Linked DNA regions of Homo sapiens. The gene in region 5 interacts genetically with the main gene of each other region. Each region holds a gene or a part of one and is shown on either strand. Other genes may lie near its edges. The genes, in order: SEC31A, MEF2C, CUL4A, CTNNB1, EP300, CUL5 and ETS2.

What was found.
Region 1: changes in EP300 (region 5) and SEC31A together harm fitness less than expected from each alone (positive genetic interaction), as found in Homo sapiens cells (one large-scale study listed by BioGRID).
Region 2: of EP300 (region 5) and MEF2C, changing one enhances a phenotype caused by changing the other (phenotypic enhancement), as found in Homo sapiens cells (one study listed by BioGRID).
Region 3: changes in EP300 (region 5) and CUL4A together harm fitness more than expected from each alone (negative genetic interaction), as found in Homo sapiens cells (one large-scale study listed by BioGRID).
Region 4: of EP300 (region 5) and CTNNB1, changing one enhances a phenotype caused by changing the other (phenotypic enhancement), as found in Homo sapiens cells (2 studies listed by BioGRID).
Region 6: changes in EP300 (region 5) and CUL5 together harm fitness more than expected from each alone (negative genetic interaction), as found in Homo sapiens cells (one large-scale study listed by BioGRID).
Region 7: of EP300 (region 5) and ETS2, changing one enhances a phenotype caused by changing the other (phenotypic enhancement), as found in Homo sapiens cells (one study listed by BioGRID).

The regions. Positions count from the first base shown.
Region 1 is NC_000004.12:82,859,650-82,863,867, reverse strand, and holds part of SEC31A (protein transport protein Sec31A), read left to right. Parts: intron 1-475; coding exon 476-550; intron 551-1,295; coding exon 1,296-1,334; intron 1,335-2,159; coding exon 2,160-2,237; intron 2,238-4,218. UniProt on the Homo sapiens protein: Component of the coat protein complex II (COPII) which promotes the formation of transport vesicles from the endoplasmic reticulum (ER).
Region 2 is NC_000005.10:88,725,743-88,729,960, forward strand, and holds part of MEF2C (myocyte-specific enhancer factor 2C), read right to left. Parts: intron 3,606-4,218; coding exon 3,476-3,605; intron 2,887-3,475; coding exon 2,751-2,886; intron 1-2,750. UniProt on the Homo sapiens protein: Transcription activator which binds specifically to the MEF2 element present in the regulatory regions of many muscle-specific genes. Controls cardiac morphogenesis and myogenesis, and is also involved in vascular development.
Region 3 is NC_000013.11:113,212,403-113,216,620, reverse strand, and holds part of CUL4A (cullin-4A), read right to left. Parts: intron 1-4,218. UniProt on the Homo sapiens protein: Core component of multiple cullin-RING-based E3 ubiquitin-protein ligase complexes which mediate the ubiquitination of target proteins. As a scaffold protein may contribute to catalysis through positioning of the substrate and the ubiquitin-conjugating enzyme.
Region 4 is NC_000003.12:41,233,785-41,237,504, reverse strand, and holds part of CTNNB1 (catenin beta-1), read right to left. Parts: coding exon 3,638-3,720; intron 3,367-3,637; coding exon 3,208-3,366; intron 1,782-3,207; coding exon 1,662-1,781; intron 1,157-1,661; coding exon 1,006-1,156; intron 918-1,005; coding exon 796-917; intron 1-795. UniProt on the Homo sapiens protein: Key downstream component of the canonical Wnt signaling pathway.
Region 5 is NC_000022.11:41,155,092-41,159,309, reverse strand, and holds part of EP300 (histone acetyltransferase p300), read right to left. Parts: coding exon 4,197-4,218; intron 2,142-4,196; coding exon 1,902-2,141; intron 899-1,901; coding exon 810-898; intron 1-809. UniProt on the Homo sapiens protein: Functions as a histone acetyltransferase and regulates transcription via chromatin remodeling. Acetylates all four core histones in nucleosomes. Histone acetylation gives an epigenetic tag for transcriptional activation.
Region 6 is NC_000011.10:108,011,485-108,015,702, reverse strand, and holds part of CUL5 (cullin-5), read right to left. Parts: intron 1-4,218. UniProt on the Homo sapiens protein: Core component of multiple cullin-5-RING E3 ubiquitin-protein ligase complexes (ECS complexes, also named CRL5 complexes), which mediate the ubiquitination and subsequent proteasomal degradation of target proteins.
Region 7 is NC_000021.9:38,815,929-38,820,146, forward strand, and holds part of ETS2 (protein C-ets-2), read left to right. Parts: intron 1-1,079; coding exon 1,080-1,163; intron 1,164-2,496; coding exon 2,497-2,718; intron 2,719-3,574; coding exon 3,575-3,838; intron 3,839-4,218. UniProt on the Homo sapiens protein: Transcription factor activating transcription. Binds specifically the DNA GGAA/T core motif (Ets-binding site or EBS) in gene promoters and stimulates transcription.

The DNA.
Region 1 (4,218 bases), on a different chromosome or scaffold from region 5:
CGGTACTGGTTTTTCAAAGGTAAAGCAGTCTTGAATACAGTTAGGTTAAAGTATAAAATTAAAGAATTTATATTTTGTAATAATTTTGGGAAAGAATTTTAGGACATAGAATATTCCACATAGTTTGAGTTTTGTATCAGTTTAACCTTTGGACATAAGTTTGTATTTACAGAAATTACTGTTCAAAAGTAAGCTTTATTCAACCAGGATAATTAATTACTAGTATATTTACTATTAATAAATAACTTATTTAAAAAAATAATTCTGGGCACATGTTCTCAGGACCTCCTGAGGCTGGGTCTCCAAATAAAAAACAAAAAAACCCACTATTCTTTGGATTCCTTCAAACAGTGAATCTTTAGAATGTAGACTTCAGATATTTTTAATAATTCTCTTTGGAATTTGATTCATTCTTATAAAAATTCGGCCTTTAAATGTAGGTCTTTGTTTTAAGAATATGTCTTTTTTTTTAAAGGTAAACTTTGAGGATGATTCTCGTGGAAAATACCTTGAACTTCTAGGATACAGAAAAGAAGATCTAGGAAAGAAGGTAAACTTTTGGGAAAGTTAGATGGCATGCTCTTTATGAATCATACTTTTAAAAAATAAAGTTCTACACAGATTATCTCAAATCACCCAATAAACATTTAATAATAATTTGTGTTTGGTTGCCAGCGTTTTTTCCCTTTTTCTTTTTCTTATTCTCCATCATTACCCACAGTGGTTGCCAGAGTTTTGAATACATATTGATAAATGACTATGTAACTTGTATTAGCCTTTCATCATTCTTTGGAAATGGCTAGAGTTTTCTATAGCATTGCAGGTTGTTGCATGTGTGGTAGAGGTATACTGTGCACTTTAAGTGCATATTGAAGATTAGTGCTCTTTTGATGTCAGGCAGAACTAACTAAGATCACATCACAACCCCACTGCTTAGTGGCTATGTCTTTGCTCACTCCTTTAGAGTTTTATATTTAACTTTATTAGTAGTCTAAACTTCTTGAGGCTGTAACTTTTTTAGGCTTGTAAGAGATTGATATGAAAGTTTTACTTGCATGCCTGATGGCAAAAAATGAGGAAATAGAATGATTGTCGGATTATTTCTAATTACTTCCATGTGAAAGAAGCTAGCACCATGGAGAACCAGTTCTGCATAGCTTTTTTAATTTTTTTAAACATACTATTCCTATAAGAACTTTTGTGGATTTTCGCCAGTGAGAAGCAAGAGGTGAACATTTGCTGGATGCTCTGAAATAGAATTCCATGTAGTAGGTGAGCTGTTATTTTTATTTCAGATTGCTTTGGCCTTGAACAAAGTGGATGGAGCCAATGTGGTAAGAAGGCCTTTAAAAATAGCTACCTTCTAAAACTTTGGCTAGGTCATAACGAAGAAGGAAATATCATTTAAGAAATTTGTGTTTTATGCTTTATGGTATAAAAATAAATGCTTATTCTAGATATTTTAATAAATTAATAATTCTCATTTTAAAATAACATGAGCTTAGCTGGTAGAGCATTCCTTTCTCTTGACATACATATTTGAATTTTGTAAAGCAGGAAAAACAGAATTAATGACTACTCAAATACTTAAGATAAAATTTTTTTTTTTTTTTTTGGCCAGGAAAAAAAAAATGGTAGGAAAGAATGGGAAAGTGGGCCGGGTGTGTTGGCTCATGCCTGTAATCCCAGCACTTTGGGAGGCCGAGGCAGGTGGATCACCTGAGGTCAGGAGTTCAAGACCAGCCTGACCAACATGGTGAAACCCTGTCTCTACTAAAAATACAAAAATTAGCTGGGCGTGGTGGCACATGCCTGTAATCCCAGCTACTTGGGCGGCTAAGGCAGGAGAATTGCTTGAACTGGGAGGCGGAGGTTGCAGTGAGCCGGGATCGTGCCACTGAACTCCAGCCTGGGCGACAGAGTGAGACTCGGTCTCAAAAAAAAAAAAAAAAAAAAAAAAAAGAATGGGAAAGTGTTAGCAGTAATAGTTCTTTGCTTTTCCTCTAATGGTATTTCTCAAATAAATTTACTCACTGTTGCTTCTTATGATTAAACTAGCTCTGAATGTTGTTGGTTGGGTCTTTTGTCTTCCTGGTTCACTAATAGCCTTTTAATACTACATTCTTCACCTTCCCCTGTAATTGTTTTGTGTACCAAAGGCTCTTAAAGACTCTGACCAAGTAGCACAGAGTGATGGGGAGGAGAGCCCTGCTGCTGAAGAGCAGCTCTTGGGAGAGGTACTTATTTTTTTTTCATATTATATTGGACAAATTTGTGATATTTGTGTATCTCACATTAAAATAAGGAAAATTTTCTTGACTACTTATGGCAAAATAAAGTTGAAGTAAATTGTTTTCTTTGAGATGTTTAGGATAGGAATCTATCTACCTATACTGACAGAAGTATCATCTCCAGACTCTAGTTCTCCAACCTTGTTTCTGGATTATATGGTTTAAAACTAACAGTTGATGTGAGATTAACATAATTTGGTCAGATGACTCTCAGGATGTCAAACTGAAAAGAGATTTTATTCAAACATCCTCACTGCATTGCATTGCATGTAAAGTTAATGTTTTTCTTGGCCTATAATTTTGGGCCAACTATCAGTGGCTAATAGGCCTCTGAATTAGTACTGAACATGGAGTTGAAGTAAAGGATATTTCACTAAACTTATTGTCATGATTTTCAATAAATGTGTCCTTAGTTGATAATTTTTGTAAATAATTGAGAAGAGTCCTTGAACACAGAGTTACATCATTAATTTTTCCTTTTAATTTTCTGGGTGTTTTTTTTTTTTTAACCACTAATGAACAAATCTGTAATTTACTTTTCTTGCTTTCTAATTTTATTTCATCTTGGAAAATTAATCAACAAGTTCTTCTCATCTCATCTTTGGCTTTTTCATTGTTCTTTGTGATATCTTGACTATGGAATGTTATGTATAATTTTTTACTAAGTTATAAAAATAAGTAAATTTAGTCTATTACAAGATGATTGCAAAAATCATTCTCCTTAGAAGTGGATCTCCTAGAGTTTAATTAACAAGGGAATAAAGGATATGGATAAAATCTTTACTAAAACTTTGAACTAGGCCAGGCATGATGTTTGCTTATGCCTGTAATCCCAGCACTTTGGGAGGCCAAGGTGGGAGGATCACTTGAGGCTATGAGTTCAAGACTAGCCTGGACAACATAGTGAGACCCTATCTCTAAAAAAAAAAATAAAAAATTAGCCAGGCGTGGTGGCACATGCCTGTAGTCCTAGCTATTTGGGAGGCTGAGGTAGGATCACTTAAGCCCAAGAGTTCGTGGTTGGAGTGAGCTATGATCACACCATTGCATTCCAGCCTGGGTGACAGAGCAAGACCCTGTCTGATTTAAAAAAGAAAAGAACTAATTTTGAGAATATTTAGACAGAATTGTAAGATACATAGAGAAATGTACTTTCATTTATGTACAACTAGACTATGTATTATCAAATAGAAGATCATTTGGGAATGCACTCATGAATAATAGGTAAGAAATATATGCATTTAATGAAATAGTAGTCATCAATGTGTACTTTTGGTTCTTTGAAAAAATGTGTTTAAGGAGGTAAAATCTTCCCCTTTGTCTCAATGAGCTATTTGTTTCATAGTAGCTTACACATTGAAGGCACTCAATACCTAATAAATTGTGCATTTTTTGACCTTATATCTCGTTCAGAAGTCCATAAATAAGGATAAATTGTTTCTAGAAAGCAAATTTGAGAAATAATGAGTTAAAAAAAAGAAAAGTGGCCAGGCGCAGTGGCTCATGCCTGTAATCCCAGCACTTTGGGAGGCCGAGGCGGGCAGATCACGAGGTCAGGAGATTAAGACCATCCTGGCTAACACGGTGAAACACCACCTCTACTGAAAATACAAAAATTTAGCCAGGCGTTGTGGTGGGGCGCCTGTAGTCCCAGCTACTTGGGAGGCTGAGGCAGGAGAATGGCATGAACCCAGGAGGTGGAGCTTGCAGTGAGCTGAGAATGCGCCACTGCACTCCAGCCTGGGCGACAGAGCGAGACCCTGTCTCAAAAAAAAAAAAAAAAAATATTTTTATGCAAGTTTGTTAATGAATGTAATTAGATCAGTGTCTCTGATTTATTCCTTAATGTGAATAACTTAAATTCTTAATTTCTTTTAGTTTTTAAATTCCAAATGCTTCTCTTTAGTTGGGGAAAGGGAATTAGGGT
Region 2 (4,218 bases), on a different chromosome or scaffold from region 5:
GCCTGGAAATTAGACTATCAAACTATATTTAACCTAACCTTTTATAAGTCATCTCTACTCAGAGTTATCTCTCTCAGTATGTACTGAACACCCACATCAACAAAGTTGACGTATGGAAATGCTTCCAGAAAACAGGCTGCCCTTTTTATAGGTGGTGGTTTAGAAAAACACTAAAACTTAGTGTTACACTAAATCAAATATTAGTATTCAAAGGACTTTCATTAACTCTTGATGGCAAGTTCCTCTGTCAGCCATCTCTCTCCCTATAGCAAATAAATTTGTGTTGCTTACTTAGCTTGGTTAGATAAAATCAGATACTAGGTTTTAAAAGTATAGCTTTGAAGACTTAAAGCTCCAAAGGACAAAATGAACTTTTTTTCCATGGACAAAATATGAAGAACTCTGTTTATGGTTTTGCAATTTTGAGAAAGAATTGTGGTAACCATCTTGGGCTGCTGGGAATATCTACTTTGGTGGAGCTGAAATATATTCCACTCTGCTATGAACATTGTCTCTAGCCAAAAGAATGTGAGCCCGCAACACAAATCTCTGCGACAACTTTGGCCTGGAAAATGTATCAATTCTTTTTAAATTGATTTACACTGTAAAGAATTAAGGATGCTCATGTGAATTACTTTACATAAGTATTGCAGCTTGGGATTTTTTAAAAAAACAGTTTAACATTTAATCGTGTGAATATGAGGTAGTCCATGTGAAGGAACCTCCTTTCAAAAAGCTACTCTGTGTGTGATTGTGAGAGGGAGAAAAGAGTGTGTGTGAAGCAGAGAGAGAGAAGGGCCAACAGTGGAAGGACTGGAAGGGTCATTCCATTGATTTGAGGGGTAAGGGAAGTGATTAAGTGCAATTAAAACTCACAGAGAAAACTAAGAGTCAAATTAAGCACAACGAAATTAAGTGTTGAAAGGAACCGGGAGCTGAACAAAATGCTTAACCTTTGGCTGTTGTAATTCAGTTCCTTTCTGTCTAAGGCTGTCCCTCCTTTCTCATTTTCTGAAACCTCTATTAGAGGCAGCAGAGAATTAGATTCTTCCTTGTAATAGAAAAGAGTTTTAAAATTGTAGTACAGCTAAAATATGTAAATAAATATGTGTTTATATGTAAAAATATAAATTATCAGGTACTATTGAAAACAAAAAAAAGCCACATTCAGAGAAAATAATATGGCTTTTGACATTGATAACTTTTAGGGAAATCTAGCCCTATAATGGATGAATTTTGTGAAAAAAATGGGAAATAAGCAGTTATGTTTATTTTTGACAAGAATCATGTTCAGTGGATTCCCTGCTAAGCCATAGCAGTTGATACTTTGTACAAAATATGTATACATGTACATATTTTTTAGTTGCCTGGATGGAATTATGTGCTTGGTGATAATTACCTGAAGAAGTTCCCACAGTTAATGTCTACTTGAATAGTTAACATTCCAGAGAAAATTTAAGTGTCCTAAAAAGATAAAACTCTGCGCTGATCAATATGTAATGTATCTTCAAAGTTAACTATCTTTCAAGAAAGCTGACCAACAGTATCACGTGAATTTATCTTACTATTTAAATGAAAGGTTAGATTTTCAATGACAGTGATTAGCGGGTAGGATGAACATAAGCAAACAGTGTACGGGTGAATATTTCATAATCAGATCACTAATATATGCTAAATCACTATCATGTGAAAGCTAGTGGGTGGGGGGAGAGAGGGCACCAGCAAACATAAGAGACACAAAGTTGTGGTATAAATCAGTGACTTTTATACTAATCAGTGTTTTATTCTCACTGTCTCCTTAGACATATGGATATATAACTAGTTAACTAATACAGCTAAGTGATTAACGATAACAAATGGCTAAGCAGAAAAGTAAAAGTGGGCTAGGCAGACAGAATATTTTTAAAATATAAAAGCTTGTTATCTTTAAATATTTTATATCCTCCTGGTATTTTCTTTTGAAGATTAATTGCAATTTTGGACTTATTAAATTTACAGTCAGGCTTTCAGTTAACGTTTTAAGCTTTTTTAAAAAAATGATTTGTTTTATATGAAATAGTGTGAATTGTGAATTCAGAGCTTTTTAAAGGTTTGAACGTTTCCATAGATAAATGACAAGAGTCATTTCTATGATAAAGACATATCTGAAAACTACCACAAGGGGGCAGAAAGATACATCCTCTGACTACATAAAACAAAAATTATTTTTATATCCAAATTTAGGTAATTAGTATTATATGTACTAGTTAGTATTATATACATATATTTCTTAAAATATCTATAAGTATACAACTATACTATGAGTACATTATAAATACATGAAGCCTGTGTATCAATTGACTAGTTGTTCCTATGTGTATTAGGTTAACATTAGCATAAACCATATGGTTTATGTGAAAAAAGAAAAATTCTCAAATATCTAAGCTTATACTATAAATGCCTTCTTATGTCCCAAATGAACTGTGTGAAAACTAAATAAAAATTATATCACTGATAGAAGTGGAAACAAATGTAGCCTAAAACAATAAGGAAAGAATTTACCTCATTATTACAGAGCTCGCTGTCCTCTTAAAAAACAGGTATATAAGATTTAAGCTACTTGAAAAGTATTGATCTGAAAATTACACTTGGATTTCAATAAAGTAGAGTTTTATACCCGTTAATGGGATATTGAAGCACATATTTAGAGACTGTCATTTGTTTTTCAAAATACATTCTAAAATTATATTATAAAAAATAATATTGCTTACCCCAACTGACTGAGGGCAGATGGTGGCATGTTATGTAGGTGTTGCTGTTGCCAGCCAGTTACTGAACCAAGGTGAAGAGCGCTGGCGGTGTTAAACCCAGACAGAGATGACAGGTCTGCACTACTCAGAGAGTACTCTAGATTAAAGAATAAAACAACAAGGGAAAATATTAAATTTAGAAATTATCAAATGGTAAATAGAATAAACATTTTCAATTTCCAAAATATTCTATTAGGATTATCGTTATTATAGATATTTTTAATTTTGAGGGGAGGGGAGATAAAGCATCAGCGATAATTCTAATTTAAAAGGAATATACTATAAACCAAAAATAAGTATTCCACGAATGCTCTGAAGTAGCATAGTCCGCAATTCTAGTTTATTAGAACTACAATCTAGTATAAAGGTATGTACATATTTGATGATGTAGAAATGTTAAACAATCCTGAGAAAGTGAGCTTTTTATTACATCAAAGAAACAGCTCAATTTTCTTGAAAGTGTGTTTCTATTTTGAACTCAGGTTGCATAAATAAAACTTTCAGTCAGTTAAGAAAGAAAAATGTGGATATTCACTTTGTCTTAGTGAAGAATGGGTAATGCTGCAGTGCTGTGGACGGCGCAGGCCCTAAATAAAGCTTCCTAATAGAGTAAAAGATAACTTTTTCATCTTGATTTTCAATAAAAAGTATTTAGTGTACTAATTGCACATGACAAAGCTACTCACCGGTACCATATGTTGTTGAAATGGCTGATGGATATCCTCCCATTCCTTGTCCTGGTAAAGTAGGAGTTGCTACGGAAACCACTGGGGTAGCCAATGACTGAGCCGACTGGGAGTTATTTATCCTTTGATTCTTTTAAAATAAATAAAAAGACATTACTGATGAATTTTTTTAAAAGTTAAAAATATTAGATTTCAGTATTAGTTTTCCACATAAAGAGATAACTTGGTACAAATCTCATGAAATTAATCATTTAACATGTGTCTCTATGAACTCTGCCAACCCTATCATTTACAATCCTTCAAGAGACCAGCTGTTGCCATAGTAACCCATTACATCAGTATCTCCTAGGCAACTGAACTAGTAACAAGTACCATAGCTTTATTATGGGTAAAAACAGACTATGTTGAAAACTGATGAAATATGTATACTGTACTTCCATTGTTTCAGTTTTCATTCAAATGCAAATTAAAAAAAAATTAAAATCAACCATGGTAGTTTTTATGTTCAGTTCTACATACAGCAGAGAGCAAATGAGTAGGGGCTCATGTTATATTTTGACCAGCAGGTGGTGCTGTGACCACTTTGTTCAGATTCTTCTAAACTTCCCTCAAACTAGATGGCAAAGCAGCTAATGCGAATATTTAACTCATTACAGTAAAGAGATAAAAGATCCACCACATAAACTTAAAATCATGAGACTTTAATTCCCAGAAGAAGAAATATTTTAGTTTTATGTAATGAA
Region 3 (4,218 bases), on a different chromosome or scaffold from region 5:
GGTGCACTCAGGCCATTAGCATTTTAAAGATTCACCCCAGAGAAAAGGAATGTAATCCAATGATCGGAGGTAGAGAAGTATCATTTGCATTCTACTCCTATTAGTATCAAGATGCTTTCCTTGTATCAACAGCCAAGTGAGGAAATTTGGTGTATATCTACAGCCAGCACTGTCTCTTCTCACATCACAGCTACTTCCTAACTAGCAGGTTCATCAAATGATTGTCTGTATTAGCTCAACAGACACGTGTGTGAATGTCAAATACACGTCTATTTATAGTGTCAAAGCATTGCCTGGAGTGAACTCACTGCTACTTAAACAAAATGCTCACTGCGGATAAGGGCAATCCCTGCTCTCAGATGTGGAAGACAGAACAAGGAAGGCCATGGAGCTGTGGGACATGACCTCCATAGTCACACAGAGACCTCCACAGCCACATGGGACGTGACCTCCATAGTCACACAAAGACCTCCACAGCCACACAGATGAGACCTCCATAGTCACACAGCGACCTCCACAGCCACATGGGACGTGACCTCCATAGTCACACAAAGACCTCCACAGCCACGTGGACGAGACCTCCATAGTCACACACGACCTCCACAGCCACATGGGACCATGGGACGTGACCACCATAGTCACCCAAAGACCTCCACAGCCACACAGACGAGACCTCCATAGTCACACAGAGACCGCCACAGCCACATGGACGAGACCTCCATAGTCACACACGCGACCTCCACAGCCACACGGACGAGACCTCCATAGTCACACAGCGACCTCCACAGCCACATGGGACGCGACCTCCATAGTCACACAGCGACCTCCACAGCCACACAGACGAGACCTCCATAGTCACACAGCGACCTCTACAGCCACACGGGACGCGACCTCCATAGCCACACAGCGACCTCCACAGCCACATGGGACGCGACCTCCATAGTCACACAGAGACCTTCAGAGCCACATGGATGAAACCTCCATAGTCACACAGAGATCTCCACAGCCACACGGGACGTGACCTCCACAGTCACGCAGAGACCTCCACGGCCACATGGGACGTGACCTCCATAGTCACAAAGAGACCTCCACAGCCACATGGACGAGACCTCCATAGTCACACAACAACCTCCATAGTCACATAGCGACCTCCATAGGCACACAGTAACCTCCATGGTCACACAGCGACCTCCACAGCCACATGGGACGTGACCTCCATAGTCACACAGCGACCTCCACGGCCACATGCGACGTGACCTCCATGGTCACAGAGACCTCCACAGCCACATGGATGAGACCTCCATAGTCACACAGCGACCTCCATAGTCACATAGCGACCTCCATAGTCACACAGCAACCTCCACAGTCACACAGCGACCTCCACAGCCACACGGGATGTGACCTCCATACTCCCACACAGACCTCCATAGCCACACGGACGAGAGAGACCTCCATAGTCACACAGCGACCTCCACAGCCACACGGAACGCGACTTCCATGGTCACACAGTGACCTCCACAGCCACACGGGACGCGACCTCCACAGTCACACAGCAACCTCCACAGTCACATAGACAAGACGTCCACAGCCACAAAGGACGAGACCTCCATAGTCACACAGCAACCTCCACAGCCACACAGACAAGATGTCCACAGCCACATGGGACGTGACCTCCACAGTCACACAGCGACCTCCACAGCCACACGGGACGAGACCTCCATAGTCACATAGCTACCTCCAGAGTCATATAGCGACCTTCACAGCCACACAGGATGAGACCTGTGTGGCTGTGGAGGTCCCATTCCTACGCTGGGCCTGCAGCTTGGGTGTGAGGGAAGGATGCCACCTAATACAAAGGACTAACCTCTCTCTTTCACTGACCATTATCACCTGGTATCAACATGTCATGAAGACAACTACTCCGTGACTCAAGAAAGACAGCCTGGCTTTCCTCAGAACTTGCATGTCAGCCGGGTGCAATGGCTCACGCCTGGAATCCCAGCACTTCGGGAGGCCAAGGCAGGAGGACTGTTTGAGTCCAGGAGTTCCCAAGGAGCCTGGACAACATAGGGAGGCCACACCTCTCTCTCTCTTTTTTTTTAAAGGGCCTGAGAGGTTTGTTTTTGTGCAACAAAAAACAAAAAAACCAGTTCTAAATCAAAACACAGCCTTTCTCTGAAACCTTTCTAGAAATGCAGTCTTCAGTTTTCTGTTGTCTCATTTAGCAACAAGCAGGACTAAAACATAGAGACACAAGACACAGAAGATGCACTTTCTTCAGGAGTTAGTTATTACAGACCGAAATTCAGGTCGTTCAATGGAAAAGATCCATGCCTTCACAACATTCTCCTCTACACACTACAGGAGGAAAATGATAAAAACAAAGTAACAAACAGAAACAACAGGCCAGCTGAGGCCCAAAAAGTGTAAGTGACAGGACTCCTAAGGTGTTTAGACGTAGAGGGAGAGTGAGCAAAACCAAAAACCAAACACGAAACCAAACCTTTCAAACTTGGGTGAGAATTGGTCCTTTCACATAAGATTCTTTGGCAAAGTATACACCACCCCACCTATACAAAAACTGAGACTTTATTTTGAAACACCAAGTCAAATGTATTGCCTGCTTGATCAGACATCAGTAATTTCACATTTGCTTTTCTTAGATTTCTATCCCATTTGCTTCCAATAGATCTGAGGCAGCTCATGCTTCAGACTCTGTGAGAGGCCAGAAGCCCACCTGTGCGTGGAGAGATGATCACAAGTAAGTGAATCAACTGATTCCACATATCCCCTGGTGGGGCAGCACCTCCAGAGATGCCCCTGGAATTTGCGATGTCTCATTCCAAGGAGGAACCAGTGACTGTCATTTTGGGGTAAGCACTCCTAGTTCTCAGGGTTTCAAGACAGACACCTAAGGCACCTACAAACATTGTTCATAATATCTAGTGATTGTTTTATAAGACATATCACTGTGTACAAGGTGTTGCAAAGTAATTCCGCCTTTTTAAGTAAAAATAATGAGGCAGCAGATATCAGACAGCCAAATCTCCAGGAAAAGAGTAGTAAGAAGCTTTAGCTGTAAGGTATCATATTTTATTAAACCAAAGACCTCTGAGAGTTCAGGTGGGACTCGTTTCTAGTCAAGACACAGTACAAGAACTGTATTAACTTTCTGCCTGAAATAACCACAAAATCAGGCAAAATATACGAAGCAACAGTTTTCGAAGCACTGAGTACTGGGCTATGAAAGACAGTGAATCTCAGAAAGATGGGAGACAAACAGGCCCCAACTGCTCAGCTTCCTGTGTGAAGAGCTTCCAGGTTGTGGTGTGGGGGCCCTGAGTAGCTGGGACTACAGGCATGCAACACCCCACTAGGCTAATTTTTAAATTTTTTGTAGAGATGGGGTTTCACCATGTTGCCTAGGCTGGTCTCGAACTCCTGGGCTCAAGCGATCAGGCCACCTCAGCCCCCCAAAGTGCTGGGATTACAGGTGTGAGCCACTGAGCCCAGACTCTCAATACTGTTAAGAATTTAATTCTCCTACATTGATCTGTAGATTCTATATACCGTCAATCAAAATCTTAGCACACTTTCTTATACAAATTGGCCGATTCTAAAATTCACATGGAAACACAAGGGACCAAGAATAGCCAGAAACCTGTGCAAATGTATGAAGCTGGGGGGCCAACACACCCTGATTTCACAACTCACTCCTCCTACTCCTACGTGGTTTTTGACAAAGGAGCAAAGGCAATTCAGTAGGGGAAAAGAGACTGAAAAACTGGACATTTGCAGGGAAAACACTGACTCTAGACTTTTCTTTGTATTTTTTTGAAATGGAGTCTCACTCTGTTGCTCAGGCTGGAGTACAGTGGCACAACCTCGGCTCACTGCAACCTCCGCCTCCCGGGTTCAAGCGATTCTCCGGCCTCAGCCTCCCAAGTAGCTGGGATTACAGGTGCCTGCCACCACGCCCGGCTAATTTTTTGTACTTTTAGTAGAGATGGGGTTTCACCATGTTGGCCAGGCTGGTCTCAAAATCCTGACGCTCAGGCGATCTACCCACCTTGGCCTCCCAAAGTGCTGGGATTACAGGCATGAGCCACTGCACCCGACTCTGACTCTAGATTTGTATTTCACAATATATACAAAAATTCACTCTACATAGATCGTAGACCTAGATGTAAAACCTAAAACTCTAAAATGTCTGGAAGA
Region 4 (3,720 bases), on a different chromosome or scaffold from region 5:
AAAAACCCAAGTAACACACTACTCACTGGTAATTTGCTTTTTTTTTTTTTTTTTTTTTGTGTTGGAGTCTGGCTCTGTCACTGAGTGCAGTCTGTTAACTCCTGGGTTCAAGCAATCCTCCTGCCCCCGTCTCCCCAGTAGCTAGGACTATAGGCATCCATCTCCATGCCCAGCTAAAGATGGGGTTTCACTATGTTGCCCAGGCTGATCTTAAACTCCGGTCTCAAGAGCTGCATCGTTGTAAACCTAACAATCTCTCTTTCCATTCACTCAACAAACATAATCCACTGTATGTCTGTGTACCATCAATGATCTCTATAGAATGGATAAAATATCAGGATGTTCTAGTTTTATTAGAAACAATGTTTCAAGGAACCACCTGTACTGAGGACAAATGCTGAAGAAAAATTCATAGCAGAAATTCAAATAGAAAAGTTTTATTAAAGTTTAGTAAAAAATACTGATAAACTGTCCTCTTAACAGTGTTTAACACTGCCTCTTTCCTTACATCCTTTTGAAAAATCTTCTTTAATCTGGTAACATTTTTCATCTTTCTCCCTTATGAATTATAATTTTAAATAACACAACTTATTTGTAATGATTCTGAACAGACTCTTTAAAGCTTGTATTATAGTTCTTCCTCAGAGCAGTTGCTAGACAGCATAAAGAAGAAATACTCAAGCCAGGGAAACATCAATGCAAATGAATGTGTACTAAGTGTTTTGAGAGGAAAGAACAAGCTGCCATACCTGCTCTAGGAAACTACCAGATAAATAACTGCTCACATTTCCCTACCTCATTCCAAGCCATTGGCTCTGTTCTGAAGAGAGAGCTGGTCAGCTCAACTGAAAGCCGTTTCTTGTAATCTTGTGGCTTGTCCTCAGACATTCGGAACAAAACAGCAGCTGCATATGTCGCTAAGAGACAAGGAGAAAAAGGCCCTTGAGGAAAAACTGAGACTTCAATGTACACATCTGCTAAAGGCTTTGGTTCCTTTTTACTTACCCACACCTTCATTCCTAGAGTGAAGTAACTCTGTCAGAGGAGCTGTGGCTCCCTCAGCTTCAATAGCTTCTGCAGCTTCCTTGTCCTGAGCAAGTTCACAGAGGACCCCTGCAGCTACTCTTTGGATGTTTTCAATGGGAGAATAAAGCAGCTAAGGAGAAAACACAAACAAAACCTAATTAAATCTAAAGCTAAAACATGGCAAGCCCCCCACTGTGGTGCAAACATTCCCAATTCAGAGTGCAAGAGGCATTCACACTGTAGTAAATAATATTCTCTGAATTTTATGTCTTGGGGTGTTTAATGCTCTGGAGCACTGGATTTCCATAATATTTTTTAGCTATAAACCCTTTCTTCAGAGGCAGCTCTAACTGATCTAAGATTTGGAAAACCCAGAATTGGTTGGGGGTCTATGCCCTGCCTCTGGCAGCCCAGGTCAGCTCTCCCCTCTAGGCACCCATAAAAGTGAAATGTGAAATCTCCTCCCTCTTCTCAAGTCTCAATGTTTCTCTTACTGACCAAAAAATGTAGGGAATTTTCATAAAATTAAATGTTGGTAACCCTATTATGGTCCCTAATTTTCTGAAATGTTATTAGTCATTACAATCTGGAAATTTTATGGACATAAAACCTAGAACACTTCACTTAAAACATACCTGCACAAACAATGGAATGGTATTTAGTCCTCTGATAACAATTCGGTTGTGAACATCCCGAGCTAGGATGTGAAGGGCTCCGGTACAACCTTCAACTATTTCTTCCATGCGGACCCCCTCCTGCCAAAAGAAACATGGTTAACAAACAGGGCATTCTCCTCTGTAAAGTTTGAGGAACAATTATTAGACTGTAATTATTTACATTATATACCCGAAGTTCCCCGTAACTTGCAATTAGTTCAGGAAGGAAGAAGGATTCCATTAACTTGAATGTCACTGAAAAGAGGCCTCCTGGCAGCACTAATTCAAAGCAGCACCCCTCCCCCATACACAGTGCAACAGAGCTTCCATACAGCGCTGAATCCCAAAGACAACTTTCCTACAGTAAGGGCACCAATCATTCTGGGTAAAAGGTATATAAAAAGAGAAGATGAGAAAGTAATGCTCAGACTATGTCAACGTTTTTCTTTTACATGCCCCCTCTATTTTTGTATATCTTCCATGTATTTGGTGAAAACTTTGCCAAGTTTTAGCACCAACTGCTAAAACTAACCGAGTTGCCAGCAGAAAAATTCACTCCTCACTCTTCCAAGACTATTCAGCTGACAGCCTCATGTATAGAAGGAAGATAGCTTTTGCAATATGTAAGTACCATCTGTTTCTCCTGTTTCTGGATTTGAGTTTTAAAAGGGGTTATTATTCTGCTACATTTAGCAGCTTTTATAAATAACTTGATTCTTACAAGGACACAAAAACTCTCTTCTTCCTAGAAAAGAGATTTAAAATAAAAGGTGCCCTCAACGTTCTATTAAGTCACCTCATGGAGATGGGCCAATACCAACAGTAATAAATGAAGAAAGCCAAAGCCCCAATATGAGTACATACACAAAGCAACCAGCAAAATGAGATTCCTAACATCTGTTCTGGTAGGCTCCATCTTTGTTTTCTAAACTAACCTAATAAGGTCTTAAAGTCTGAGAAATCAGAAATGTCATTAGACTATACTTTTAATGAAGCTACTTTTAAGACACAAACTTTGTATCAAAGCTTCAGGTTGAGATTTTTGTGGTTAAGAGTACAGAAATGCTACTACTTATTTCTGAATATTCTTAGGTCCATGAAAAAAGTTTAACTCACAGAAAAGATAATAAAACGGACTGCTAAATATTTATAGTCAAAATGCATGATGAGGCAAGGGTAAGAGGCTCTGAAATTACACAGATTTGATCTCAAATTATGACTCTACCTCTTCCTAAGGAAGTGGGCCTTTGTGTAAATTAAATGAGAACACTTTATGAAACACCTAACCCAACCTTTGTAAGACTGACCATGTGAAGGACGTGTCCAAGGAAATATCACTGGGGCCACACTATGCCTTATTTTCTCTGCAGCCATAGAAATGTGTAATTATTTATTTATTTACTTTGTCATTAGCTCTTCAGGAAGACGGATGGGGGGAACCAATGACCAAAGAAAGAAGTTCAGGATCCTTTGGATTTATGCATTCCTTTTAGATAGCCAGGTATCACTGTAAGAATTTACCTACCACAAATTGCTGCTGTGTCCCACCCATGGACGTACGGCGCTGGGTATCCTGATGTGCACGAACAAGCAACTGAACTAGTCGTGGAATGGCACCCTGCTCACGCAAAGGTGCATGATTTGCGGGACAAAGGGCAAGATTTCGAATCAATCCAACAGTAGCCTGAAAAACAGAAGGAAGAACTGGCATACAACTCAACAAAATCATTTTCTTACCCTAAAATTCCCACCACACTAAATCTATTGGTATCAACTAAAAGTAGTTCTGACTACACAAACATTTCAGAATCTTACCCCTATCGCAGCCATACTTCCTACTTACTAAGGAATACAATTCCTACTTATTGATCACTATGCTTAGACAGCCATCCAACAGCTAGAGATGCTTCATTTTCAATTCTGCAACAAAGGTAAATTCTACTTTGACAATTTACCTTTATCAGAGGCCAGTGGGATGGTGGGTGTAAGAGCTTAACCACAACTGGTAGTCCATAGTGAAGGCGAACTGCATTCTGGG
Region 5 (4,218 bases):
CAACACACAAGTTCAGCAAAAACCAACACCATGGATTTGGTATTAACAAACAAATAAAGGGTATTAATATCATCCAGCCTTGTTATTATTGTATCAGAGCCCCAAATAAACACCCAATGCAAGCTATACTTGTAGCTGATCACTGAAAACAGGAGACAAATTGTGGTTAAGATAGATTAGTGAATGAGATTTATGTGATTACAGCCATTGATTGGGCAGGAGAAAATTAGGCAGAGGTGCCTCGTTTATTAGACTCAAATCATCCTCTGTCACATACAAGGCTGGGTTGGGAAAAGTAAGGTACAGAGAGCTATGTGAGGTTTTCCTTTTAATTTGCTTAATATGAGGCAAAGAAAAGACTCCAGAATCCTGTTTTCATATATTCTAATAACAACTACTTAGGGATAGGCCTCATCTAAAAAGGAAATATTTCCAAAAAGCTGTCTAGCGAGTTTCAGTTAAAAGTTTAAAAATCTTCTCAGTTTTGCCTCAGGCTGTGGTGATCAACAAACACACAGTAGAAAGAGAAGTGGGGCCTGGGATATAGACCCATCTAGGCCAACAACTCACAAAGTTGCTTAACTTCTCAAGCTCTTGGGAGGAACCCAGGTAACTGATGCAAGGCTACTCTGATAGAAAATTTTATTGTTCTGCAAACAAAGGCAGAAGGCAAAAAACAGAACTTGTGCTATACAGCTGTCTTCAAGCAAGATACACATGAACCATGACTGTATGTGTGCTGGCCCATCCGCATGCACTCCCTGGACATGTGGACACATGGACCATGGTCCACACCTGGCCAAGCTTACCTGTTCTGGTAACTGTAATAAGTGGCATCACGAGGTATTGTGCACAACTGTTTGCCGTAGCAACACAGTGTCTGTGGAGAGAACTCCAACTGCAAAAGAAACCATTTGTTAAAAAGCACAGAGGCCTTAAGGACAAGCTAGAACAGTAAGAATGGCAAGTCAGAAACAGAAGTCAGTGGTGTCTTAGTTCTCATTTATGTTAATAATGATGGGCTAATTCAGTTCCTGAAAATCATTCTCAGTTTACTACCACATTATTTCAAAACGCTGAGGTAGGCTTAGCAGTCATATCCTTCCATCACTTTACCAAAGAACCTAACAGGAATAGCTGGGCAGGGTGGCACATGCCTGCAGTGCTCAGAAGCTGAGGTGGGAAGACTGCGTGAGCCCAAGAGTTCCAGACCAGCTTAGGCAACACAGCAAGACCATAGTCTTATTTTAAAAACAAAAAACCAATAATGTGAATTGGTATGTACAGGAAAGCCAGCACATGCTGAGGAATCTGCACCCACAGGTGAATATAAGAATGCCCCTACTCCAGATGAGTTAACAGTCTGTTGATTATTTAATTAGTCAACTTTTCCATACAATTGCCACTCTGAAAAAATGCCTTTAAAGAAAGCCCATTTCATATTAAGAGATATTACTACTGTGGCACACAGTAAGAGAAAGACTGTGTTGGCTGGGAGAGGTGGCTCATGACTGTAATTCCAGCACTTTGGGAGGCCGAGGCAGGAGGACTGCTTGAGCCCAGGAGTTCAAGACTAGCCTGAGCAACATCATGAGACCCTGTTTCTACAAAACAAATTTAAAAAATCAGCCAGGCATGGTGGCGTACGGCTGTAGTCCCAGCTGCTCAGGAGGCTGAGGTGGGAGAATTGCTTGAGCCCAGGAGGTTGAAGCTGCAGTGAGCTATGACCTCACCACTGCACTCCAGCCTGGGAGAATAAGACCCTGTCAAAAAGGAAAAAAAAAAAAAAAAAAAAAAGCCATGTCAAAGCCAGAAGCAGGATATTCTCTTATCCCAGTCACCACTATATTATTCTAGGTATCCCAGAAAAGTTAAAGTCAAATCTGAAACACATTTCTTACCTTTCTGCCACAACAGTATCCAAGGCTTTGCATCACTGGGTCAATTTCTTGTTCAAAGACCTCAGAGAGCTTGGAGCAGTATTTGTATACCCGTGATGTTTTCCGGTTATATAACCAGGCATTATTGAACATAAGCCAAATATCATCGACATACTGCCAGGGCTCCTGATACTGTCCAGTGTCTAACTTCCTCTTAATGGTAGAAAGATCCATGGGGCTCTTCACAATATCAAAGTAATCCTAGAAAGACAAGTGACATCAAACATTACTCAAGTCTCACTATTTTTACGGGAGATGGAGTATCATCCATTATCATTGTTAATTTTCCAGGCAGTGTTTTAGTTTCTGGCCTGTCTATATTCCCCAAGAGGTGACTGATGTCCATCACTTCTTTAAATATTAGTTTACAGAGATATTAAACTACTCAAAGGGCAGAGAAACAGAACTACTATGGACTTTCTAGACATCAGGCTGATATTCTACTGAAGCAACTTCAGGTTCTTTATGAAAGTACATGTGAGATCAGTAAAGTCAAAGACATTTAAAATTTTAGTACTAGAAGGGGTGTACAATGAGGAAACTAAGCCCACAGAACTTAAAATGTTCCATCTGAAATCACAGCAAGATACAAGAGAGGAAAAGTCCTAAAAGGCTTTTGCCCCTGGAAGCACTTGACCTTTGAGATGGAGTCTCTGTCAACATGTTGCCCAGGCTGGAGTGCAGTGGTGCAATCTTGGCTCAGTGCAACCTCTGCCTCCCAGGGTCGTTCAAACTATTCACCTGCCTCAGCCTCCCAAGTAGCCAGGATTACAGGCGTGCACCACCACGCCCAGTTACTTTTTATATTTTTAGTAGAGATGGGGTTTCACCATGTTGGTGAGGCTGGTCTCCAACTCCTGAACTCAAGTGATCTGCCTGCCTTGGCCTCCAAAAGTGTTGGGATTACAGGCGTTAGCCACCGTGCCCGGCCAAGTAACAGTTTAAAACCACCAAATGAAATCTGCCAGCAGCCTAGTATATGGAGGCAACTTTAAAAACAAAGCTAACCACGGTCCTTTTTTCTGCTATGACCTATTGCTCTTGAAACAACGAAAGTGGCCGGGTGCGGTGGCTCACGCCTGTAATCTGGGCATTCTGGGAGGCCGAGGTGGGTGGATCATCTGAGGTTGGGAGTTTGAGACCAGCCTGACCAACATACAGAAACCCCATCTCTACTAAAAATACAAAATTAGCCGGGCATGGTGGCACATGCCTGTAATCCCAGCTACTCGGGAGGCTGAGAGGTAGGAGAACTGCTTGAACCCGGGAGGGGGAGGTTGAGGTGAACTGAGATTGCGCCATTGCACTCTAGCCTGGGCAACAAGAGTGAAACTCCATCTCAAAAAAACAAAAAACAAATAACAACAACAAAAAAGTAAACAAACTATATAACCCAGGAATTCCACTCCTAGGTAAATACCAAGGAGAAATAAAAACTTAAATCCACACAATGTTCACTACAGTCCTATCTTAATAGTCAAAACGTGTAAACAACCTAAATGTCTATCAACTCATCAACAGGTAAAGAAAAATAATGGAATATTATTGGGCTATAAATAGGTATGTGCTACTGATTCATGCTACAACATGGATGAACCTTGAAAACATTATGCTAAGGAACGTCCTGGCACAAAGAATCACATACTGTATGTTCCAATTTAATGAAACATGTAGAACAGACAAATCCAGAGACAGAATGCAGTCTGGTGATGTCTAGGATTGGGGTGCTATGGGAGAAAATAGTGAGTGACTGTTAATGGTAAAGGATTTTTTTCAGATGATGAAAATGAAAGTGTCATGCACAACTCTGTGAATATACTAAAACTCCCTGAATTAGGCCAGGCCCAGTGGCTCACACCTGTAATTCCAGCACTCTGGGAGGCTGAGATGGGCCTATTGCTTGAGTCCAGGCGTTCAAGACCAGCCTGGGCAACATGGCGAAACCCCGTCTCTACTAAAAAATACAAAAAACTAGCCAGGTGAGGTGGCACATGAATGTAGTTATCCCAGCTACTCAGGATGCTGAGGTGGGAGAATCACCTGAGCCCGGGAGGTGGAGACAGTAGTGAGCCACGATCGTGCCACTGCACTCCAGCCTAGGCAACCAGAATAAGACCCTGTCTCAGGGGGAAAAAAAAAAAATCACTGAATTACAAATTTGAAATGAGTGGCTATACTGTTTGGAATGTGAATTATCTCTCAATAAAGCTGTTATCAAATTAAAAAATAAAATCAAAAGTACCACCAAATACTTACAGGGATTCCTAAAAGCTGAGGG
Region 6 (4,218 bases), on a different chromosome or scaffold from region 5:
TGTATCACAAAGTTTTACAGTTACTGATTAGTCCACTATTCCCTCTCCCATTCCTACCCATGACCAACACAGACACCCTTGAAATTTGTTTCCTCCCTAGGCTGTGTCGAATGCAACCATCTCTCTAGGACAGTACACTGAAGGAGGGGAAGGCCGCTCTAAGGCCCATGTCCCTCTTAGATATACGTTTCAAGAGGGCAATTTCTATCAACCCAATGAAAAATTGACAAGTTCTTAATAAGGTTCTCATTTATGTTTAACTAGACATATTAAAAAGAATTCTCTGGTTATGCACCTTAACCACATTCACCGATGATATTCAAATCTTCGTATCACATCCATATTCCTTGCCAAGCATGATCCTGACTCTGTGCTTTCACACTGGCTGTTCCCTCTACAAGGAACTCTTCTAAATATGTACATGACTTGCTCCCTTGCTTCATTCTGGTTTTACCTCAACTATTATCTCCTCAGAGGCATTCCCTCACTATCTTATCAAAAATAAGCCAGCTGTGATGGCTCATGCCTGTAATCCCAGCACTTTGGGAGGCTGAGGTGGGAGGATCACTTAAGGTCAGGAGTTCAACACTAGCCTGGCCAACATGGTGAAACCCCATCTCTACTAAAAATGCAAAAATCAGCCGAGCATGGTGGTGGTCACCGGTAATCCCAACTACTCGGGAGGCTGAGGAAGGAGAATTGCTTGAACCCAGGAGGTGGAGGTTGCAGTGAGCCAAGATCGTGCCACTGCACTCCAGCCTGGGCAAGAGAGTGAGACCCCGTCTCAAAAATAAAAATAAAAATAATAATAATAATAAGAGCACCGAGCACTCTCTCTTTTACCCTGGTTGTTTTTATTCATAGTACCTATCACAACTTGACTTACAGTATGTATTTCACTGTTTATGTTTATTGTCTCTCTTCCCAACAAAAATGTAAATTATACAAGGGCAGGAGCTGTCTGCCTAGTTCATCATTATCTAGTTAGAATTAGGAAATACTAAATTCTCGTTCAATGAATAAATGTATTTCCCATAGACTTAATTACTCCTGCTATGGTTACGGTTTCAATGAACAAGATGTCACTGGCACAAATGCCCCTCATCCATGGCCAATCTCACAAGCAGATTATAAATATACAGAAAATATAATAACTTTTATTTATGTGTAAAAGCCAAAAATAGATTGAGGGCTTGAGAGTATCTCTGCCCACATATTTTTCAAATATTCCTCAGTAACTATAGAACTTTATTTCAAACCCCTTGCCTAGCACTGAAGGCCCTTTGTAATCTGACCCGACTTCCCTTTCACTCCTATCCCTCTTGTTGTTTCCCTGTATTCTGGGTTTCTATGCTGCAACAATCCCAAGGAACACTATTCATATAGAATATCTAACACAGCATGCAGCCCTGCTTACACTGCAGCCACACTGATCTAGCCTAGATTCCTACCAAATTTTCTCCTAATTACCAATACAAAAAGCTTACCCATTATTCAAAATCCAGCTCCAACACTTTATTCAAAATCCAGCTCCAACACTTTCTCCATAAAATTTTCACTGATCATCCCACCAGAAATTATTTCCTCAATCTGTGAGGGAGCATAGAGCAGTTGGTAACACATCTGAAACTTTTGCCTTATCATAAATCATTAGTACCTTTTACTCTCCTTTAGCATATGGTAAATTCCCAAAGAGCATGGACATTGTTCTACATATCTTTGCATTCTCCATGGTACCTTGCATATGGATGTCAATAAAGTTATTTTAATAATGAATAACTTTTACAGGCACTTTTTATTGTTGTTGTTTTATAGAGACAGGGTCTTGCTACATTGCCCAGGTCGGCCTCAGGTAATCCTCTCACCTCATCCTCCCAAAGTGCTGGGATTACAGGCATGAGCCACCATGCCCGGCCTCTATAGACACTCTGAATCACTGCTTTACATTTCCATTTTCTTTCCTCTTAAAGGATAAAAAAAAGTCCACTGAGAAAAGTAGTATGAATCATATTTCAGTTTAAAGTTTGATTTATCTTGTGGTTCGGTTATATACTACTGCCTTCTTGTGCCTCCATCTCACTAGATCCAATCAGAAGGAGAGAGAATGAAAGTTAAGAGTTAGTTATTAGGGAGATGACGACCTCTGGCATGCTAGTGAGCCAACAAGTAACCAGCTAAGTAGGAGTGTGTACGCACACATGTATGAGAGAGAGAGACAAGAGACAGAGAGAGAGAATACTAGTTATCAGGAGAAGACCCAGCTGGAAAGATCTCAAATAATTTGAATCATCAAAGGTATCTGAACAGGAAAGTGATATGGTGAGAACTGCATTTTGATCTAGAGCTCAGATCAGAGCTAAGAGATAAAAATAGTGAAATCATGGGAGTTAAGACTGTCCCAGAAAAAAATATACAAAGATAGAAAAGGGCTGAAGATAAAATCCTGAGAAATAATTCTATTGGGGACAGGGGAGGGAAGTCAGTGAAAAACAAACGTGATTTGAGAGAGAGAAGACCAAGGAGGGAATGTCATAAAAACCAAAAGAGAAGCAGAGGAAATGAGCAATAATACCAGAAAAGAGGATAAATATTATCAGAGAAGAATCTCATTTGATAATCAGGAGGTTGCTAATACTTTTATGACTGACAGGTTCTATACAATTGGGTGGGAGAGAAGAGTAAGCCATATCATTAAGTTAAAGGGCAAAGAATTATAAAGGCAGCAAATGGGGGCTGCTTTTCCAAGAACTGTGACAGTGAGAAACAGAAGTTTGAGGCAGAGGCAGAGTACAAGTTTGTATGAGGAGGCAGAGTGCAGTGGCTCACGCCTGTAATCCCAACACTTTGGGTGGCCGAGGTAGGCGGATCGCTTGAGGTCAGGAGTTTGAGACCATCCTGGCCAATATGGTAAAATCCCGTCTCTACTAAAAATACAAAAATAAGCTGGGTGTGGTGGCGTGTGCCTGTAATCCCAGCTACTCAGGAGGTTGAGGCAGGAGAATTGCTTGAACCTGGGAGGCGGAGGTTGCAGTGAGTGGAGATCCACACCACTGCACTCCAGCCTGGGCAACAAGAGCGAAACTCCATCTCCAAAAAAAAGAAAAGTTTATATGACGCGACATATGAACTTTCTTATAGGCATAGGAGAAAAAAGGGAAACTGAAAAAAAAAAAAAAAAAGTAAGAGGGGACATACCACCAAGTCCTGGGGGGAAGATGAGGACTGAAAAAGAACAAGCAGAATGAGACAATTTGGGAGGTAGCATGGAACAGAGAAGAACATAGGAGAAACAAGAAAAATGTTTGGTATCGACCAAGGAAGTTAAGGGCACTTCAAATAGCTGGGTAAAGTAATGTACTAAGAATTAAGAGGGGTGAGGCTCAGCAAGAAAAGGTTTAAACAATTGCTGTTTGGGGTGGAACAATAAACTGGAAATGAAAAAAATGAGCACTAAGGGCCCAGATGATAATTGCAAAAGAAAAGGAACAATCACAATTACATGTTCAAAGTAATCTAAAACAGAAGATAAAATTATAATATCAGATCCCTACAAATGTTCTACAGACTCACTCTGTAAGGAAAAACAACAAAGATAAAGTAGTTACATGGAAAGGTTTTCAGAGATACAAAACCCCTAAGCAGTTAACTGTATATGTCAAAATGTGCTACACAAATCTTTACATAGCTGAAAGACTTCTAAGATCCAGCAATAGTCCACTTGCTTTAAACAGACAATAAAATTATTAGAGTCAAATTCCAATATTAAAAAAGAAAAGCAGCTAGACATGGTGGCTCACGCCTATAATCCCAGCACTTTGAGAGGTCGAGGAGGGTGGATCATGAGGTCAAGAGATGGAGACCATCCTAGCCAACATGGTGAAACCCTGTCTCTACTAAAAATACAAAAATTAGCTGGGCGTGGTGGCGTGCGCCTGTAGTCCCAGCTACTCGGGACGCTGAGGCAGAAGAATCGCTTGAACCCGGGAGGCGGAAGTTGCAGTGAACCAAGATCGCACCACTGAACTCCAGCCTGGCAACAGAGCGAGACTCCGTCCCCCTCCAAAAAAAAAAAAATTAAAAAGAAAGAAAAGCTGGTGGTTTTTTTTATGACATTGGCTTCTAACTTCTAAGTTACACATCAAGAAAGTTCACTAGAGTCACTGAGTCACTTACTTTTTTTCAAAATATTATCACCTTCCCTTTATTTGTAAATGTTCA
Region 7 (4,218 bases), on a different chromosome or scaffold from region 5:
CTGTTGAAAGGAAGGAAGGAAGGAAGGAAGGAAGGAAGGAAGGAAGGAAGGAAGGAAGGAAGGAAGGAAGGAAGGAAGGAAGGAGGGAGGGAGGGAAGGAAGGAAGGAAAGAAAGAGGGAGGGAGGGAGGGGAGGGAGGGAGGGAGGGAGGGAGGGGAGGGAGGGAGGGAGGGAGGGAGGGAAAGAAATAAAATACAGTAGGGATTATTTAGGTTAAAAAAATATAAGAAAATAAGCATGTTTATAGAATTCAGGGAACTAGTCCTCACCTGACTGATTTTAAACACACTGAATTTCAGCATCAACTGTAGACTCAGAATCTCGAAAACACCTAGGATTCAACAGCTAACTTTTTTTAGTTACGGCGTCTGAGGGCCAGGGAAACTCATTTTTAAAGACCCTCATTTCTTCTGAACTTGGACAGGGCTTTTCTACCAAGTTTCTGGTGATCTGTTTATTGGCAAATTGGGCCTGTTTTACCATTCCTCGGGCCTGTGAGTTTGTGTGTATTTGGGTTTCCGGGTGGACGTGCACTTTGTAATATATTCGTAGTAAGTATGCATACACAGTGCACAAACCTTTTCCCTTTCAAAGTTCTTGGGCACATGTGTTCCCCATCCCAGACTCCCACAGCCCTGGAGACTTCCCACACCCTGGGGAAGCGTGCAGGTTTGGAAGCAGTGGAACTGTAAGCTTCACGGGGGCAGACACCATCCATTTTATTAATTTCCTGTATGCAGCCTCTGGTACAGATGGCATTTCATAAATACTTAACTGTTTCTTGAATGCATGAATGAATTCAATACACCATCTGGACCTTTTGCGATAGAAAATTTAGTGTTGCCAATGACATCATTCATTTTGGAAAATTTATTTTAGTAATTGGAAAAATGGGTTGCTTTCTCTCGTTTTTTGAAAAAGACAGGCAGGGACGTGGAGCACCATGAGATTAAATGTGAAGCACTCCGTGCATCTCATCATTCTAAAATTATCATCTCACAGGAATTCAGAAAGTCAATTTGTTCTGTGTAGTTTTCACCTACATCTGCCATCTTACGTCTCCTGTGTCTGCTTTTCAGAAAACCAAGAAAAGACAGAAGATCAATATGAAGAAAATTCACACCTCACCTCCGTTCCTCATTGGATTAACAGCAATACATTAGGTCAGTCCGATTGATTCTGCCCTTAAGAACTTTGTCTTCAGTCTTCCCAGTAGACTTGGAATCTCTCTACTGTAGGCTCCTAAGGGGCCACCTAGACCTGTGTGTCTCTTATGGTGGCCACACGTGGGTGTTGAGCTATAAGCCATTGAAATGTGACTGGTCCACATCGAGATGTGTAGGAAGAGTATAGTCATGCACACCAGATTTGGAAGTCTTAGTATGAAACAGAGAATATAAAATGTCTCCCTGATAATTTTTAATGTATTGATTACATATTGAAATGATAATTGCTATATGAGGCCAAGTAAAATAAGAAAATTAACTTCACCTGTTTCTTTTTGCTTTTTTAATATGGCCACTAGAACTTTCGCAGTTGCTTAAGTGGCTCACACGATCTTCCATAGGTCAGCACTGTTAGTGCTAGTCCAGGCAATTCTTAGAGCAAGGAGCAGAACGAAGTGAGCTGATTACCGCAGTCACCAGTAATGTTGGTTTAGTGTAGCAAACAAGAGGCGGCAGGCACAGAGTGCGTGAAAAGCAATTTGTAAACTGGCTCTGAACTTGGGAGCTTAAAGAGCTGTCATGGAATCTGGGTCCTTTCTTCTGGTTGCTGATACTGGGGAGGGCACAGGGTCTGGCCAGGCCAGCGAGGGAGGGGTCCTCGGAACAGCAGGCTTGGGTGGTGTTGGTCCGGCCCAGTGTTTTCTCTCTGGCCCCAGCTCCACCATTCAGACCCGGTGAAGCCCACCTCTCTGCCCCACTGGGGGCTTCCTGCTCAGGAGGTCTTTCTGAACATGACAGTGGGACACCCTGTGCCTGCCTGAACCTGAATCAGAGTCAGAGAGCTTCCTTCCCTCTCCAGAAAATAAATTATTCTGCAATGAACAGAGACAGGAGCGGTGTGATGAAGGAGCAGAAAGCAGAGTGGGCTGTGCCTCAGCACACAGGGTTCATGGCCTGGTTCTGCCCTTATGAATCACACAGTACATGACACGTCACTTGGTCTGTCTGAGCCTTACTCTCCTCGGAAGCTAAAAGAGCCAGTGAGCCCTGTCTTCCTGAAGGTCCCATGAAAGCACTAGGGTTGTAGAAATAGGAACATTGAGTCCTGCCTGCAGAGGCTGCAGTCATTTTGGCAGAGGGCTGCTGGTTGAGAAGCTGAATGGTTTGAGAAGAAGGCCTGGTGACAGACCCCCACCAAAGCCCGGGTCTCCACTGAGGTTCTGCAGAGGGCTGGAGTGTGCGGAGTGCTCACCTGTCATTTGCTCGTAGGGGTTAGTTACTGGGGTAACACTGACTTTAAGAGCTCTGCCGTCCGATTGTTCTGTTCCAGGTTTTGGCACAGAGCAGGCGCCCTATGGAATGCAGACACAGAATTACCCCAAAGGCGGCCTCCTGGACAGCATGTGTCCGGCCTCCACACCCAGCGTACTCAGCTCTGAGCAGGAGTTTCAGATGTTCCCCAAGTCTCGGCTCAGCTCCGTCAGCGTCACCTACTGCTCTGTCAGTCAGGACTTCCCAGGCAGCAACTTGAATTTGCTCACCAACAATTCTGGTAAGATTGGAAGCATCTTTCAACAAGGCTGTTGCTTTGATTCTGAGAACCCCAGAGCCATAATGAACCTCTTAATAAATACTTCCTGGATTCAGCCATTAGAGAAGGGGGTCAAAGCCCATGTTCTAAGTGGATTTCCAACAAGCATACCCCTAATATGTTTCAGGCACTGGCCCAGGTACTGCAGGCATTGAGTAAACAAAACAGTCCCTGCTCTTACAGCCAGATTTCTCCACACTTTGGGATATTTATGGAGGCGATGCAGGAATGTGACATTTCTTCTTATGGAGATGTAACATAAATACAGTGCACAAGTCTCAGGTCATGTGGCTGGTTGGATTTGTGTATGTATGTATACCCATGTAATAACCATCCAGATGGAGATAGAGAAGTTTCCAGTAGCCTGGAAGATTCCTTCGTACCCCTTCCCATCAATAATGTCCCCCCGACAGAAGGGAACGATTCTGACTTTTATCATTACGGATTAGGTTTTGATTTTCTTGAACTTTACATAGATGGAATCATAAGGCATGTTTTCTTTTGTGTTTGTCTTTTACTCATCATGTCTGGGATTCATGCATGTTGTTGGATGTAGCAGCCATGTGTTCTTTTTCATCGCTGTATAGTATTCCATTATAAGAATTTTATTCATTCTACTGTTGATGGAAGATAGGATTTGTGTAGTATAGTTACCCTAAGGAATAAGCACCTGAGTAGAGAGCATTTTGAGAAGTCTGAGTGGTTCTACACCAGCAGGTGCATGATTGCACTGGTAGTGGTTGGTGATGCTATGGTCGTGCCCAAGACCAACTGTGTCCTGGAGGAATCAAAGTATGTGTTTGGTTGTCTTTGCCAGGGACTCCCAAAGACCACGACTCCCCTGAGAACGGTGCGGACAGCTTCGAGAGCTCAGACTCCCTCCTCCAGTCCTGGAACAGCCAGTCGTCCTTGCTGGATGTGCAACGGGTTCCTTCCTTCGAGAGCTTCGAAGATGACTGCAGCCAGTCTCTCTGCCTCAATAAGCCAACCATGTCTTTCAAGGATTACATCCAAGAGAGGAGTGACCCAGTGGAGCAAGGCAAACCAGTTATACCTGCAGCTGTGCTGGCCGGCTTCACAGGTGTGTGTGGAACTCCGAGAGCCTGGCCGCCCAGTCTCCTGGGTCCTGTCCCTTGCTTCCTTTCGAGCCACAGTACCACATTCACCGAGGGTGTTTCTAAGCTAGGTACACCAGTGCTCTACACTCCATGTTTTATGCGTGGCTTGCTGTATCTCTGAATTCGACAAAAGCCACACTTGGAGGAATTTTCATGTACACAGAGCTCCATGGAATGAGTGAAAATTGACAGGCCACTCCCTCCACCTGGGACGTTCTGAGGAATAGTTGGAGCAGGGGACATGGCCTGTGCAGTCTTCAGCCCTGACTCACCCACTCCAAGAATCTCAAAGAATGTAAACTGGCTTAGGGAGGGGCAGCAGAGCCAGTCTCAAATAATATGG